Linked DNA regions of Homo sapiens. The protein of the gene in region 3 interacts with the protein of the main gene of each other region in a pairwise test. Each region holds a gene or a part of one and is shown on either strand. Other genes may lie near its edges.

What was found.
Region 1: the proteins of EEF1D (region 3) and MPC2 interact in binary tests that used the Homo sapiens proteins (3 or more experiments, as listed by UniProt).
Region 2: the proteins of EEF1D (region 3) and ABTB1 interact in binary tests that used the Homo sapiens proteins (3 or more experiments, as listed by UniProt).

Annotation. Positions count from the first base shown.
Region 1 is NC_000001.11:167,930,513-167,934,164, reverse strand, and holds part of MPC2 (mitochondrial pyruvate carrier 2), read left to right. Parts: intron 1-3,652. UniProt on the Homo sapiens protein: Mediates the uptake of pyruvate into mitochondria.
Region 2 is NC_000003.12:127,675,842-127,678,730, reverse strand, and holds part of ABTB1 (ankyrin repeat and BTB/POZ domain-containing protein 1), read right to left. Parts: intron 2,762-2,889; coding exon 2,617-2,761; intron 2,460-2,616; coding exon 2,300-2,459; intron 2,196-2,299; coding exon 2,150-2,195; intron 1,765-2,149; coding exon 1,648-1,764; intron 1,564-1,647; coding exon 1,445-1,563; intron 1,267-1,444; coding exon 1,168-1,266; intron 1,056-1,167; coding exon 888-1,055; intron 1-887. UniProt on the Homo sapiens protein: May act as a mediator of the PTEN growth-suppressive signaling pathway. May play a role in developmental processes.
Region 3 is NC_000008.11:143,583,916-143,587,567, reverse strand, and holds part of EEF1D (elongation factor 1-delta), read left to right. Parts: intron 1-715; coding exon 716-839; intron 840-1,277; coding exon 1,278-1,349; intron 1,350-3,652.

The DNA.
Region 1 (3,652 bases), on a different chromosome or scaffold from region 3:
TCAGAATGAAGAGGGATTACCTTTCACTTGCAGGATGTGCATTTCACCTGAAAATCCTTGGATTCGTTCAGTTATTTTAACCCCCTTTTTCAGTGTAGTAAAAGGAGCTAGGCTTTGAAGGGAAATAGACCTACGTTTCAGTCTTGGCTGTGTGACCTTGACCCTAAATTCCTGCCTTAGTTATCTCATCTATAAAATGGGAGTAATTGTAATCATTTCAGGATTGTTGTGAAAATCAGATGATCTAATGTCTCTAAAACATGTAGCACAGCGTTTGCACTTAGACTCTCAATAACTGTCAGTTCTAAAATTTGAGCAACATACAGAGTAAGGATATCTATTACAGCAGAATTATTTATGATCGACAAGTTGGAGGCACACCAGTGTAGAAATGGAGGAGCTTGAAAAATACGTTGACTGATGAGTATTGAATAAAATCTAAGGAAACACTGATTATTGTCTTAAGAGTTTATCCAGAGTGAATATTCAAGGATTTTGCATACTATTTTGCCTAACAGTATTTGTTATTGAATTGTCATTGAAACATTTTTCTAGATTCACCTACAAGGAGTTTATTAAATGATATGAAATGCTACAATATTAACAGTTGGAAATCATACATTGCTGATTCTAGATTTTTGAGATTTAATTTTATCACTGACACTGTATGTCTCGACAGGTAACAAGAATGTGTTTTTAGCCAGGCACGGTGGCTCACACCTGTAATCCCAGCACTTTGGGAGGCTGAGGTGGGTGGATCACCTGAGGTCAGGAGTTTGAGACCAGCCTGACCAACATGATGAAACCCTATCTCTACTAAAATACAAAAATTAGCCGGGTGTAGTGGCGGGTGCCAGTAATCTCAGCTACTTGGGAGGCTGAGGCGGGAGAATCACTTGAAACCAGGAGGTGGAGGTTGCAGTTAGCCAAGATCGTGCCATTGCACTCCAGCCTGGCAACAGAGCGAGGTTCTGTCTCAAAAAAAAAAAAAAAAACTAATGTGTTTTTATGTATAGATACATATTTTAGTTACAGTATTGCATCTCTGACCTGTGAGCCAGAATTTTGAGGCTCTCATTATCCATTTGCCTATGTGTTTTTGCTGGCATGTCATGATCTGCCACTGTAGAGAAGGAATAGAGTTCTAGCCAAATGTGTGTCCTGGTCAAGTTCCTCAACTCACAAAAAAGGATGTCAGTCCCCGCATTATCCCCCACCTGACTATAAAAATATGTGACTCCACCCTAGCCAGTTGCATAGCTGTACTCCAGTGTTTGTCAAAGAAATAATCTTGAAGTTATGTTGCCCAGTGTTATTTTTTCTTTTCTTTTCTTTTCTTTTTTTTTTTTTTTTTTTGAGACAGAGTCTTGCTCTGTTCCCTAGGTTGGAGTGCAGTGGTGTGATCTGGGCTCACTGCAACCTTGGCCTCCTGGGTTCAAGCGATTCTCCTGCCTCAGCCTCCTGAGTAGCTGGGATTACAGGCATGTGCCACCATGCTCAGCTAATTTTTGTGTTTTTAGTAGAGATGGGGTTTCCCCATGTTGGCCAGGCTGGTCTCAAACTCCTGACCTCAGGTGATCCACCTGCCTTGGCCTCCCAAAGTGCTGGGATTACAGGTGTGAGCAACCACACCCGGCCCAATGTTTTCTTAAAAGCTTAGTTAAGGAAAACAAAAAAATTATCAGTGGAGGAGTGTCATTTATTTGTATTTGTGAGTTCCAAAATGGGGTAAGTCATCCCAAGGGGTGCACACAATGAAACACTGGAATGTAGGAAGAAAATTATAGAACTTCCAGTAACGTTTACTGTTATTTCATCCACTTAAATTTTTCATTGTGTATACATTCTGTAATACAAAAATATATTATTGCAGTAATTCTATATAATTTATAAATATATAAATGATTTATAAACAGGATGTATACTCAAATTGTTTTTTACTGATAGGGCATATGTTCAAGAGGAGCTGGAAGACCACAGCTCTAAAGAGTCTAAAAACTATCCTTTGGTGAAGTTAGTCCCAAAAACAGCTATCTGAACCATATCATTTTAACGCATTATAGCTCTCCTTTTACTGAATTACATTTTGGCTTACATGGAAGAGCTTTTGAAAAAATAGTTCTGTGAAACTTGTTGCAGTGCTTAATGTGCTGGTGCTGAGAATATCATTCTTAACATTACATGGGTTCCCTCTGAAGACTCATGGGAAAAGTTACTTTAAAGTCTAAATAAGAATAATATTTGCATTTTTCCTAGATAATTAGCTTGTTTAATTTTAAAGACCTAGAGGATATTTCTTTTTAAATAAAAATAAACTAAATGAACCAATGTTATCAGTGTTTATAAGGAAATATCTGTATCATAAAAATTTTATATTCAATGCTAAGAGAATTGATGTTACAATAGATGGTTAAATACAACTTAGTGCAAATATATATTGTTCTATTATATGTAAATAAAATCTAATATGGATCAAATAATGAGTGTACGTACCTACATAGTTTGAATTACACAGTTCTTTAGCATCTCTGTTAGAACTTATTTTGTTGCCACAGATTGTCAGTGAAGAATCTTAATGCCAGTCTAAGATATTAATATATGTCCATATATATTCTTAAGTGTATATTTAATATATTAAGTTTAAATACACTAAATATACATATATTATTTTTTAAAGTAATAACTTATTTAAAGTTAAGAGATAACTAAAATAGATGTAAGATTAGAATTTCAAATACAATTGTAAAATATTGGTGAAAAATAGAATATCTTCAAACAATCAGCTACCAAGAAGGTTGAATTATTCAATATTTATTGAGGGCCTATTGTATATTAGACACTGTTCTGGCACTCAGGATAAAGCAGTGGATAAAATAACGAAACCCACCCACACAGAGTTTGTATTCTCAGAAGAATTCATAAAAAGGAATATCAGCTGGGCGCGGTAGCTCACACCTGTAATCCCAGCACTTTGGGAGGCCGAGGCGTGTGGATCACCTGAAATCAGGAGTTCGAGACCAGCCTGGCCAACATGGTGATACCCTGTCTCTACTAAAAATACGAAATTTAGCTGGGCATGGTGGTGCACACCTGTAATCCCAGCTACTCTGGAGGGTGAGGCAGGAGAATTGCTTGAACCCAGAAGATGGAGGTTGCAGTGAGCCAAGATCGTGCCACTGCACTCAATCCAGCCTGGGCAACAGAGCAGATTATCATCCTTGATGCAGTTGTTCAACACTTAACATATTTTTTGTGTGCTATCCTGCTTTTAAACTAACTTTAAGAAATTAGAACTGTTTATGCAGATGTGCTAAAGGAGAAGAAAGCCCTAAGCTATAAATAGTTTATCATTTCCAGGTCATGTAAAAATATTAATTTTGCTTATAACAGAGAATGAAATATGTTTAAAGTGCTGTATGGTACAGTAGAAAGAGGACTAGGATCAAAGAAACTGTGTTCTAGTCGTTGCTCTATCCAGAACTCTCCTGAGTGTAAGACAAATTACTTAACTTGTAAGTGCCTCATCTTTTTCATTTATAAAAATGAGGGAGCTTGGACTTTCCTTAAAGTCTTTTCCAGCTAATAATCTATAATTTGGTATTCTCTTAGGACTTTTCTTACATTCAGAACCTTCAGGAAACTCAGATTTCAT
Region 2 (2,889 bases), on a different chromosome or scaffold from region 3:
AGCATGAGTTTGCCTAGGACCCAATCTCCATGGCCAAACGCGATGCCCCAGGCAGGATGGGTAAGCTACGGCCTGTGGACCAAATCCAGCCTGTTTGTGCAAGTAAAGTTTTATTGGAATGCAGCCTCACCCACTCATCTCTGTACTGTCTCTGGCTACCTTTGCGCTACAGAGTTGAGTAGCTACAACAGGGCCATATGGCCCACAGAACCTGAAACACTCACCTTCAGAGAAAAGGTTTTTGACCTTCACCCTTAGGCATACAGGGGCAAGATGGAGGGATGACCTGATCTTCCGCAAGCCACTTGCCCTGGGGCACCCACCTCAGTCAGAAGTGAAGGAGAAACAAACTCCCCTCTTCTTTAAGCCACCAGATATGGGGATTGCTTTATAGTGCGCGCGCACGCGCACGCACACACACACTCTCTCTCTCTCTCACACACCCTGGCAGAGCAAACCTTCAGCACTCTGCTGCTGCCCTGCAGCCTTGGCTTACGGACACCTTGGGGCAGCTGGAGACAGAGGCAGGCAGCAAGGGAAGAGGAGACTGGGAACCCAGAACCCCAGGGATCTGCAGCACCACAGAGAGGAGGCTGTCCCCACCCACCCTCCACCCTCCTGCTAGAGAAGCTGAGGATCCCAAGTGGCTGACAAGTGTGGAGTGTCTGTGACACAGGCTCATCACTCATCCTCTCTCTGGAGCCCAACAAGGCTTCCTCTACCTGAAAGAAAAATCCAAAGTCCCACAGCCTTCCCCTCCAGCCTTCTCAAAACGTCAACCATGGGGCCAGCTGGGCCCTTCCACAGACCCCCAGGGCCCTGGCGCTCCCTCTCAGCCCACGGCAGCACAGGTTGTGTGCCATCCCCAGCTCTGCCTGAGCCCCCACCTCAGTGTGGTCGCTGTACATGTAGTAGAGCACGTGAGTGAAGACGTCGGGTGAGATGCCATGCAGGGTGACGGCTGGGGGGCCCCCTGAGGTCGCTGGCTCCTCGCTCTCTCGGAAGTGGTCATCCAGCAGGGCTCGGAAGTAGTCACTGCGGCCACAGAAAAAGGCCTGGGGGAGGCCGGGCTCAGGAAGTGTGAGGGCCAGGGTCTGTCTCCTGAGGAGCTAGACGGGGGCTCAGGGCAACGGGCTGGGGCCAGGGGCAACAGGAGGGCACAGGCACCTTGTGGCAGAGGAAGCTGCAGCCAGCCACTCGGAAGCAGATGTCAGGGCAGCTGTTGAAGCCGTCAGGACAAGGGAAGGGCAGCTCCCAAAGATCACCCTGGGGTACAGAAGAGGTGACCCCATCAGAGCAGTTGTTCACAGAAGTGAACGACTAGGTTCAGAAAAGGGAAGTAACTGGTCCAGGACCACACAAGGAATTGAGCCCAAGTATCTGGGCTGCCTGTCACGGCCTGCCATCCCAAAACGCCCTTCCTGCCCACCAGCCCCGCACTTACTCGGAGCTCGGGGGGCAGGGCACAATCGGCCAGCAGCGCCATGTCCTCCCGGAGGCGGGGGTCTGCAGGTGGGGGCTCGATGGTCAGCACCTTCACACACGTGCCTGGCTTAGACGCCACTACAGGGGAAGAACAACTTCAGGGAGCCAGGCCAGCCCTGCCAGGCCGCACCCATGGCCCCGGGCCCCAAACCCTGCTCGCACCAAACTCAGACACCTTCTCGCACTTGGCCTCCAGGTCGCTGAGCAGGTCCCACAGCTGGCATTGCTTGGCCAGGCGCTCACAGTCACTCACATGCTCTACGCCAATGTCCAGGCGGCCTGGGGGCAGTGGGGAGGATGAGGGCCTGCGGGACCTCAGCTGTCATCAGGCCCACAGAAAAAGGGTGATCCCCTCCCACCTGGCCACCTGGCTGCAGGACTAGGACTCCTGGGCCCACTTGCCACCATGGTTTCCCCATCAAAAGCTGTTCTACAGGCCCCAGGGAACAGATGGGAGGGCCTCAGCATGTGGGTGGGACAAGCTCTTCCTGAGCAGGCACACTAGTCCTCTCTCTTGCAACCCAACCCGAGAGGCAGCTGGAACCACCCCGGGGGGACCATGAAGTGTCTAGAGGTGAAAGGTCAGCCCAGCCACACCTAGGTGTACTGCTGTCCAGAAGGACGGCCCACTCCCTCTCCTCCTACCCTGGACCCAGGGGGTCACCTGTGTACAGGTACTGCAGCAGGGCCCCAAAGGCCACGGGGTTGATCTGTGGGCAGAAAACCAGAAAGTAATGTCAGAGGCAGCCACCCAGCACAACCTCCTGCTGTTCCTGGACAGTTCATGCCCCTCTGCCACCCTGAAGGGACATACCAGTGGGTGCCTGAGAACCACGACACTCTTGCCCTTCCATTTGGTGTCCAGCATGTTGGCAAAGTAGGCACTACGTGCACCCAGGACGCAGCGATGCACCCGGAATGGCTTCCCGTGTACTACAAAGACCACGTCACTGTGGATGCCCTGCTCTAGAAGCCTGGGGAGGGACAAGCCAGGAGGGAGGATACTTGGCACAGCCCCACCCCATTCCTCGGAGCACTCAGAACCCAGTGCAGGCCACAGTCAGAGCAGACTCGCCACACCCACCAGGGCCACCGCACCCCATGCTGCACCCCTCGTGTGCCCTGGCTCACCGCTGCAAGAAGTCGTCATAGTAATCCCGCCTCCTGCAGGAAGCCGTGACCTGCTTGTAATCGCGTAGAGCCCGGCGGATGGGGTCACTCAGTGCCCCATAGAGGCAGCGCTCACCATCGAAGGTGTTGGCCTCGCAGCGGGCTCCTGGGGGAGGCAGGGCTCACCAGTTAGCAGGGAAGGGGCCTGGGGGAAATTCTAATCTCCCTGTCCCTCCTCCCCACCTTCCCACACATGGGGCTCCGAATCTCTGGCGATGCCTTCCCAAATTACCC
Region 3 (3,652 bases):
CACCTGAGATCAGGAGTTCAAGACCAGCCTGGCCAACATGGTGAAACCTTGTCTACTAAAAATACAAAAAATTAGCCAGGCACAGTGGTGTGCACTGGTAGTCCCAGTTACTCGGGAGGCTGAGGCAGGAAAATCGCTTGAACCCAGGAGGCGGACGTTGCGGTGAGCCGAGATCGCGCCGCTGATTCCAGCCTGGGCGACAAGAGTGAGACTCCATCTCACACAAAAAAAAAATAACAAAAAAACTCAGAAATGCTAAGTGTACTTATTTGTTGAAGAAACTTGTTACATATTACTAACATCTTTTTTTTTTATGAGAAATACTTTTCCCATAACCAAAAAATTCAGTGAGCAGAATGGCCTTGCTTGAGGTTTTTGCAAATCTCTCGGGTGTCTGGCTTAGTGGGAGGCAGCTGGGCCCTCATACCTGCCTCCGCACTTCAGCTGTTTGACATAAACCCAGCTTCGTGTGAGTGAAAGGGAAGGGCCTGGGGACCCTCAGAGGTTCTCGGACCACACTTTGAGAACTCCTCGTCTGGAAGACAGGCCTGGGGATGCCATGTGGGGTGAGGGCTTACGGGCTTGGTGTCGCTTTGTGGAGAACCGCTGGTGTCTGAAGCGGGTGTCAGCCCCACTGCACCTTGGTGCTTCTGGGCTGTCCTGATGCCGAGGCCCACTTCCCAGCCATGCTGACTTTGCCTCTTTCCCCTCCCAGCAGAAAAATGGCTACAAACTTCCTAGCACATGAGAAGATCTGGTTCGACAAGTTCAAATATGACGACGCAGAAAGGAGATTCTACGAGCAGATGAACGGGCCTGTGGCAGGTGCCTCCCGCCAGGTGAGAGCTGCACGTGGGGCGGCTGGGCGGCTCTGCTGCCCGACAGGAGTGGCCGGGGCACACAAAGCGGATTCAGCCAGGCCAGGAAGGCAGAGGCACCCTGGCCCAGTGGCTCTGCTGTGGGTGCTGGGAGTGGGGTCTCGGGGCAGGCGGCCTTGGCCGGGCCCCCGGGCCGGGTCTGCTCAGGGCCCTCCTGCCGGCGCCTGTGCACTTGGTGTGGGGCCAGGCCTGGCACTCCTTCCCCCGCAGACATGGGCGCCTTTGCCTGTCGTCACAGCCTCAGGCATCTCCCGCTTTTCTGGCCCGCCAAGCTCTCGTTCTGTGCAGTACTTTCTTGCTGTCTCTATGTGAGGGTTCATGGGGTTTTTTGGTTTGTTTTTTAATTAAATTCTTTTTTAATAATAAAAAAAAGACTGGTTCTTTCTGCACTGTCTGCAGGAGAACGGCGCCAGCGTGATCCTCCGTGACATTGCGAGAGCCAGAGAGAACATCCAGAAATCCCTGGCTGGAGTGAGTACCCGCGGCCCACGGACCTGCGGGCTCCTGCTCGGCCAAGCAGCATGTCTGATTTTTCCTGATGCTGCTGGTTGTTTTGGCTTCACAGCAGAGTCAGGGCAGGGTGCACGGCGCTGTGCTCCTTGGGACGTGTGGCTCTGTGACCTCCATGCCCGGACTGCCACGGACAGTGTTCTTATTCTCGCGTCCCTTCCGTGCTTACCTCGTCTGCCGGCTGGCGGTCACACTGGCCGCTCCTGTGGGGCCGGCTGGGAGCTGAGTGGTGCCATTTGCAGGGTGTCCTGTGGGCACCTGGCATGAGAGCCTGTGCCTCCCTGCTTGCTCCCTGTGGCAGGACTGTGTGTCTGCTGGGCCTTCCCACATTCCCTCTTAGATCTTGCCTCACTGGGGAGAGAGAAGTGGTGGTTCTGCAAGGCGCAAGGAGTTCAGAGCCTAGAGTTGGCACCGTCTTGAGTTGGAGACCCAGAAGGAGCCCTGTATCCCTGCTTGGCCTCCAGGCCCCGGGCCAAGATCAGGAGTTGGAGGCAGTAGCTGTGGCCTGACAGGCTGGCTGGGGAAGGGGTGTCCTCCGGGAGGTGGCAGCCCTGGTGTTCCCGAGGAGTTGGGACTGCGTTCTCCCCGGGACGGGGTGGTGTCCTGGCCCCAAGAACGGGGTCAGTGTTTCTGTGGCTGCTGCTATGGCTTTCCACAGCCTCACGCTGGAAACAGTACATCTGTATCATGCCGGGTTTCCAGGCCAGAAATCTGAAATGTGTCTCACGAGGCTGTCCCCAGTGTCAGCAAGGTCGCCATCCTTCCAAAGGCTCAGGAGGAGTCTGTTCCTTTGCCTCTCCCAGATTCTGGTGGATGCCCACGTTGCTTGTTTCAAGGTGCTCAGCAGGCAGCCTCATCCCCGCCCCGCCTCCACTTCCATCTCGCGCCTCTCTCGAACCTCCTGCCTCGCTCTGTCACTTACGTGGTTCTTGTACTTGCTTTGGGCCCCCAGGATCCCAGGTCCAGGATGTTCCCACCTCAAAATCCTGAATTTAATCGTGTTTGCCAATTCTTCTTTTTGCCATGTAAGGTAGTGGATTTGCAGGCTCTGGGGGTTGGGACGTGGGCGCCGGAGATTCTCATTGTCTCATTTGTAAGGTGCATTGCTCCTCACCAACATCTGCAGAAGCCTGGGTCCCCCACAGTGTCCCTCCAAAGTCCAGAATCCCATCCAATCAGGCATGGGGGATTGCGTGGTCCATCCTGAGGCAAAATTCCTCTCCATCTGTGGACCAGTGAAACTGGAAAGCAAGTTATCTGCTCCCAAAATACAATTGTGGGACAGGCATTCCCTTTCAAAATGGGAAAAAGAAGAAGGAAACAGGGCGTCACTAGTCCCAGGCAGTTTCACAGTCCAGCCCGGCGGGTCACGTGAGGTTTGAAGGGAGCGCTCCTGTGTGGCCCATGGTCCCCCCCGCTGTCATTTTTTAACATCCCTATTCCTACCAACAGCATGTTCGTGGCAGTTTAGGTTGTTCTAGAAGATGACGTGTTTTCTCTGCCCTGCTCCTCACCTCCTCTGAGTCCTCACCGAGGGCCTTAGCATCTGAATTCTGCCAACAGGGTGCTCAAGACAGGCTAGGGTTTTTCTTTTGGAGGGGGTGGGTGAGTTGTGGACAGAGTCTTGCTCTGTCGCCCAGGCTGGAGTACAGTGGCATGATCCTGGCTCACTGCAACCTCAGCCTCTGGGGTTCAAGCGATTCTCCTGTGTCAGCCTCCCGAGTAGCTGAGACTGCAGGTGTCTGCCACCAAGCCCAGCTGACATTTTTTTTTCTTTTTTTTTTTTTTTTTAGTAGCGGCAGGGTTTCGCCATGTTGGCCAGGCTGGTCTTGAACTCCTGACCTTATGATCTGCCCACCTCGGCCTCTCAAAGTGCTGGGATTACAGGCGTGAGCCACTGTGCCCGGCCCAGTCTAGGGGTTTTCTGTCACGCTCCTCAAAATTCTTCCCGCCTCACCACTGCCCAACTCCAAAGCCATCTCCACATTGTTAGGCATTCCAGCAGCACCCCACTTCCTGGGCCAGGATCTGTGTTGGTTTCCACTTGATGTTGCTGTAACGTTGCCACACTTCCGTGGCTTAAAACAGCACAAGTTCCTCACCTTACAGTTCCGGGGGCCAGAAGTCTGAGATCATCTTATGGGGCAAAATCAAGGCTGTGGTCCTTCTGGTGTCTCTGCGGGGAGAATCCGCTTCCTTGTCTCTTCTGGCTGCTGGAAGCTGCTCACGGTCCTTGGCCCAAGGCTCCCAGGCAGCTGTCTTGT